Homo sapiens: one gene and its partner. The protein of the gene in region 1 interacts with the protein of each later gene in a pairwise test. Each region holds a gene or a part of one and is shown on either strand. Other genes may lie near its edges.

The links. Proteins that work in one complex are often made in the same cells at the same time.
Region 2: the proteins of PIP5K1A (region 1) and CADPS interact in a two-hybrid assay, tested with the Homo sapiens proteins (one large-scale study listed by IntAct).

What each region holds. Positions count from the first base shown.
Region 1 is NC_000001.11:151,233,052-151,236,551, forward strand, and holds part of PIP5K1A (phosphatidylinositol 4-phosphate 5-kinase type-1 alpha), read left to right. Parts: intron 1-1,145; coding exon 1,146-1,445; intron 1,446-3,500. UniProt on the Homo sapiens protein: Catalyzes the phosphorylation of phosphatidylinositol 4-phosphate (PtdIns(4)P/PI4P) to form phosphatidylinositol 4,5-bisphosphate (PtdIns(4,5)P2/PIP2), a lipid second messenger that regulates several cellular processes such as signal transduction, vesicle trafficking, actin cytoskeleton dynamics, cell adhesion, and cell motility.
Region 2 is NC_000003.12:62,487,417-62,490,916, reverse strand, and holds part of CADPS (calcium-dependent secretion activator 1), read left to right. Parts: intron 1-3,500.

The DNA.
Region 1 (3,500 bases):
ATCCTGCCACTGCACTCCAGCCTGGGTAACAGAGCAAGACTCCGTCTCAAAAAAAAAAAAAAAAAAATGTTGTTCAGTTTTGTGCTTTTCACCCCATTTCTTTTGCCTCTCTATGGTAAAAGGGGTTTTGTTTATCTGTTCTGTTTTAAGTGTTGTTGATCTCCCAGGCTCAAGTGATCCTCCCACCTCAGCCTCTCACGTAGTTGGGACTAAAGGCACGCACCACCACACCTGGCTAATTTTTATAAACTTATTTTCTTTTATTTTTTCGTGACGGAGTCTCGCTTTGTTGTCCAAGCTGGAGTACAGTTGCACAATCTCGGCTCACTGCAACCTCCGCCTCCCAGGTTCAAGCAATTCTCCTGCCTCAGCCTCCTGAGTAGCTGGGATTACAGGCATGCGCCACCATGCCAAGCTAATTTTTTATTTTTTAGTAGAGATGGAGTTTCACCATGTTGGTCAGGCTGGTCTTGAACTCCTGACCTCATGATCCGCCTGCCTTGGCCTCCCAAAGTGCTGGGATTACAGGCGTGAGCCACCGTGCCCGGCCTAATTTTTATAAATTTTTAGTAGAGATGAGGTCTTGCTATGTTACCCAGGCTGGTCTCAAATTCCTGAGCTCAAGTGATCCTCCTGTTTGGCCTCCCAAAGTGCTGGGGTTACAGGCATGAGCCACTGCACCTGGCTATTTTCGTCTTCTGTTCTTAGTTCAGCTTCTAGTTTGGGGAATGAGGTAGGTTATTTCCCTTGGTAATACTCTCTGCAGCCTTACTCTGATTGCTATTGGAGGTTCTGGAGAAGTTAGGTAACTCTCCTTACCTGCCTTACCATCCCCAAGAATATACTATACCCAGGGCAGAGAGTGTCGTCTTCTCTTAAATCTCTCTGAAGAAATATATCCATCTTATATTGGTATCCTGGCTGATTTCTGTATTGGAGAGTCTGTGGCACAGCTTGATGGTGAACTTACCATTGAAATAGATGCATAGGGAAATGTAAAGCATATATGATGTAGGTTTATGGACACATTGTGTCTAAATCTCATATAGGAGATAAAGGGAGGATGGGTGGTAACTTTTACTGGTGAGTTTCACTGAAAATCAGCTAAGTTGTTCTCCTACTTCTGTTTCCTTTTGTGTTCTCAGAACCTCAACCAGAACCCTCGGACTTTGCTGCCTAAATTCTATGGACTGTACTGTGTGCAGGCAGGTGGCAAGAACATTCGGATTGTGGTGATGAACAATCTTTTACCAAGATCGGTAAAAATGCATATCAAATATGACCTCAAAGGCTCAACCTACAAACGGCGGGCTTCCCAGAAAGAGCGAGAGAAGCCTCTTCCCACATTTAAAGACCTAGACTTCTTACAAGACATCCCTGATGGTCTTTTTTTGGATGCTGACATGTACAACGCTCTCTGTAAGACCCTGCAGCGTGACTGTTTGGTGAGTTTGTTACTTAGACATCAAAAATCTCAGTTACTAAAACAGCTTGATTGTTCTTAGGCATTAAGTTTGTGGGAGATGGAACTCTGTTCCTTAGCACTGTATGTCCTGGGCTGTATTTAAAATAAGTCTTAATTAGTTCATTGCCATTCCTTTACATTTTTACTTTCTCCCCGTTTATCCTCCCACAATGGGATTTATTTCCTTCTCTAGCTAGCCTGGGCCTCACAGTCAAATGTTCTGCTTATTTTCATACCAACATCATCCTTCCTCAGATTTTGGTCCTGGCTGCCAAATCCAAATTTATATTTTGGAAGCTGAGTGCTGCTGAAGAATATTACACAACCGTGTATACTGGCATCTACAGAATTATGATATCCAACCCCACTTGGGCTTTCAATATCGATCTTCAGTCCATTTGCTGTTGCTCTCAATAGGGATTTCAGATGTTTGGCATTCTAATCAAACCATTTTCTGACTCTCATCTCCCTAGCTTTGTTTCTCAACAAGCTACCTTAACTTTTTATCCTATTTCATCCTCTCATGCTGCCCCTGTCACCAATGGATAAATGTATCTACATTTTACTTTATTTTTTATTTTTTGAGATGGAGTTTCACTCTTGTCACCCAGGCTGGAGTGCAATGGCACGATCTCGGCTCACTGCAATTTCCACCTCCCAGATTCAAGCGATTCTCCTGCCTCAGCCTCCCAAGTAGCTGGGATTACAGGCGCCCATCACCACGCCTGGGTCGTTTTTGTATTTTTAGTAGTGACAGGGTTTCACCACGTTGGTCCCGCTGGTTTCAAACTCCTGACCTCAAATGATCTGCCTGCCTTGGCCTCCCAAAGTGCTAGGATTACAGGTGTGAGCCACCGCACCCGGCCTAGATATCACTCTTGACCTCTGTACTCTTCTGTCATGTGAACACTTCCCACTGTTGCACATATTAAACTGTATTGTGTTTATTTTACATTTGTATCCCTTTCTAAATGTATAATGTCCTTGAAGACAGAAACTCTCTCTTTAATATCTTTATATCTCTGTAAGGAGGCACAGTGCCTACATGGTGGAGATTCAGTAAATGTTTAACTGAATTGAAGCTAGTCATACAAGGTCCTACCACAGATCTGTTCTGTCACAAAGTGTACTTTACCAGAACCTCATTGTGGAATCTTCACAGCACAAATATGTATTCCTTGTTCTTTTGAGAAGGTAGTGTTCTCTTCATGGAGACATACATGGAAAGAACAAAGATGGTCTTGTGGGCTAGGCAGTGGGACTTGGAAAAATTATATTAACTCAAATGAGAGAAAGCTAAGGGTATGTAAATAAAGACTAACCAGGCCGGGCGTGGTGGCTCACGCCTGTAATCCCAGCACTTTGGGAGGCTGAGGCAGGCAGATCACCAGGTCAGGCGTTCGAGACCAGCCTGGCCAACATGGTGAAACCCCAACTCTACTAAAAATACAAAAATTAGCTGGGTGTGGTGGCACGTGCCTGTAATCCCAGCTACTTGGGAGGCTGAGGCAGGAAAATCGCTTGAACCAGGGAGTTGGAGGTTGCAGTGAGCCAAGATCGCGCCACTGTACTCCAGCCTGGCGACAAAGCAAGACTCCGTCTCAAAAAAAAAAAAAAAAAAATTTAGCCTTACAGGTTCACTGTAAGGCTAAATTAAATAATTACATCATGAAAGCTGTCAAGCCAGGCGTGGTGGCTCATACCAATAGTCCCAGCACTTTGGAAGACTGAGATAGGCAGATCCCTTGAGCCCAGAAATTAGAGACCAGCTGGGCAGCATGGTGAAACCGTCTCTATGAAAAATAAAAAATTAGGCAGGTGTAGTGGTGTGTGCCTGTAGTCCCAGCTACTTGGGAGGCTGAAGTAGGTGGATATTTTGAGCCTGGGAGGTTGCAGCTACAGTGAGCCGAGATCACACCACTGCACTCTAGCCTGGGTTACAGATTGATACCCTTTCTCAAAAAAACAAAAAAATTGTGAGATCCTGAAAAATATTTTTATTTCTTCCAAGGCTCAGATCATGTTTTTTTCCTTC
Region 2 (3,500 bases), on another chromosome or scaffold:
TTTGGAGCCACATAATCTCTGTCACAACTCAACTCTGTCATTGTAGCATGAAAGCAGTCATAGACAGTATGTAAATGAACGAGTGTAGCTGTGTTCCAATGAAACTTTGTTAACAAAACAGGTCCATAGTTTGCCATTGCCTGGTCTAGGCCTTTTAGATGCACCTTTTTAAAAAAAACCTTTATGGCCAAGTATGTTTAGGAAACAATACCTACCCCACTGACCTAGAATTTTGTGTAACTCTGTTTAACCCGGATTTTCCTAAATGTATTTGACAACCGTGTGCTTTTTTTAAAATGGGACATATACCCTGCAGGATAAATTATGGGAAATCTTGTGGGTTGCAAGTTTGTCAATTTCCACAAATGTTTGGCAAATTTTAGGTCTTATTTGAAAATGTTTGGCAGGCTTGGTGCCATCTCCATTCCCCAAATGGGAAGAGGGCTTGACTTGAGGCTCCAGAGGGTCAGTCTCAGACTCCCCTTTCTGAAAAAATAGAGACTCCTATATGGAGAGTTTGATGGTTATGGTTTGATGGTTTGAAAAGCTCCAGTAAAGCCTACTGCTGGATTTGCCTTGTTAGTTTCTTTCTTTCTTTCTTTCTTTCTTTTTTTAAGGAAATCATTTCGTTCATGCTAGTATTTTACATCTTTGGGATGCAGCAAACAGTATGGAGCAAAGTAGAGGGATGTTACAAGCACATTTTAGGAACTCCAGAACAAATATTCATGAGGCCTTTCCTCAGTTTGGAAGCCTTGACTTGCAGCCTATTTTTAAGCAGTTTTCTGAACTGAGACCCTCCTCTAATGTTATACTGTATAAGGCTCTCACTGATAAATTAATGCAAAATAGGCTTTTCTGCCCCCCTTCCACATCTGAGCCACAAGAGGAGTTTCCCTATTGCAGGGAGGTTAATAACCAGTAGCTCCTCCTTTGCAAATACCAAGAAATTTAAATTTTAGTTTGTTATTCTCCAGTTTATAACAGTCTCTTAATATGGCCCTACTGACTTTTCACTCATGAGGGTAGAACTGGATCCCTTGATGGTAAATTATTGAGAGCCTCTATTTTTTTTCAATGTTCAATACAATGAAGACAGTTGTGCTGGAGAATAGCTATTAAGAGGAAAAGGTTAAAATGAGTAATATTTACGTTTTAAAATAACAATGGTCTTGAAATAACATTTACTTACTTGCACTTAAATACGGAGACTACTACTACCAACACACATGGAAGAGAATAATTGGTATCCTTCACTATTCCTTGAAGAGCCCTAGATTTAGTGCCCATTTACTAGCCAGAAGTCAAGGGTTCAAACCTCTATGAACTTGTTTGCTCCCCTGCAAAACTGAAGTTTTAAAAATGTGCCTGTCCAGTGTCTGAGAATTGTCATGGAACTTCGTGATAATGTCACTAAGTCATTTTATAATCTGTTAAATTTCTTAAAAGTCAAACACGGCCGGGTGCGGCGGCTCACGCCAGTAATCCCAGCACTTTGGGAGGCCGAGGCGGGTGGATCACAAGGTCAGGGGATCGAGAACATCCTGGCTAACACGGTGAAACCCCGTCTCTACTAAAAATACAAAAAATTAGCTGGGCGTGGTGGTGGGCACCTGTAGTCCCAGCTACTCGGGAGGCTGAGGCAGGAGAATGGTGTGAACCCAGGAGGTGGAGCTTGCAGTGAGCCGAGATCGCTCCACTGCACTCCAGCCTGGGTGACAGACCGAGATGCCGTCTCAAAAAAAAAAATAATAAAAGTTTAACACATGACTGCTACTTCTTTGGGGGCATTAAATATTCTTAATACCATCAGAAATAAAGATAGACTCAAAAATCATCTTCATACCTGGAAATCTTAGTCTAGGGATGTTTTCTTGGGAATATTTTTACCAATTAAAAAAAAATTTGAACTCTTGCATGGGCAATTTAAAGGTCTGCAAATTGTGAATAAAGGAATAATAGTTGCGAATAATAACCTGAGAATTATGCAGATACGTGTGTGTTTTTTAGTAGCTTTTTGCTATCTAAAATTATGCTGTTAGTGAATATGATTGTGGTTTGTTCAATTCATACTAAATAGTATATGCCTTTCAGAGTCTGTGGAGATCTTTAAAAGTGCCAACTAAGGGCTGGGTGTGGTTGTTCACACTTGTAATCCCAACACTTTGGGGGGCCAAGGCGAGAGGATCACCTGAGGCCAGGAGTTCAAGACCAGTCTGGGCAACATAACCAGACTCCATCTCTACAAAATAAAAAAAGTAGCCAGGCATGGTGGCACAGCATGTAGTCCAAACTACTCAGGAGGCTGAGGTGGGAGGATTGCTTGAGCCCAGGAGTTCAAGGTTACAGTGAGCCATGATCCTGCCACTGTACTCCAGCCTGGGGTGACAGAGTGAGTCCCTATTAAAAAATAATAATAATAAATAAATAAATAAATAAATAAATAATAAAAACAGTGCTAACTAAAATACAAGCTACCACACACACTGTATCAGCCGATTTTTAAACAGAGTGTGGATGCCACGGGGCAGCTTTGCAGAATGGAATAAAATGGAGTGTAAAAAAGAGCTTGGAGACATGTTATGTGCTAAGAGGAGTGACTCTCTCCATGTTTCCTACAACGTGAATAGAAATAAAGTGTGAACTTCCATCTGACTACTTATTGGTGGGTTGATGAAGAAGCAGATTCATTTCTCTTCTTAGATTTTTTTTCCAAGTGAAGAATGATCTTTTTGGCATACTTCTCATCAAGCTCACCCCAAAACAAGAAACTAACTTAGGTAAATAGATTTAGTTTGCTCAGTCTTTTCCATTTTTGCCACAGAATCTTCCAATACATACATACACACACACAGCCTTTCTTTCAAACAATTGTTATCCTCAAGTAGTTCTGTTCTTCTTCTTTTCAAAATTTATAAGCACCTCGTTATAAGTAAAATGAGAAATGCATTGTAATGAAATGCAATGTAATGTTCAAAATAATTAGCATGCAAAATGCTGAAGAAAAATAGCAATCTGACAAGAAAATGCTACCAATGTATTGAGTTTGCTAAAAAGAGAATGAAAAATATCCTTTATTCTTCAGATTTTCTTATTTCAAAATATGGCCCTGTAAAAGAAAATAGATATCATCATTTAGGCTTGATACAATTAAGGTTATTTAAGATGAACAACAAAAACAACAACAACAAAAATAATTGAAGTTATTTGACGGAAAGGGTAAAATGGCTGAGTCCTATGGCAGCCTTTCCCTAGAAAGACAGTCTTCCATCTCTTCGAAAAGAGAAAAGGGAAGCTACATCTCTGTTTCCGTTAAGCCAGACACAGTCATGGTTAGAATCTCTATGAATTGGTGGACAATGTCATCTCTTTGCTTCTAACCATAGCTAAAGATAGTCAGCTTCTCAAAGACAGTCCCAAGTTGTCAATAAAATCTGGAGCCCATGGCCCTCTCATGGGTTTCCATCAGGACATGTAGTAGGGTCACCACTCACAGTTGG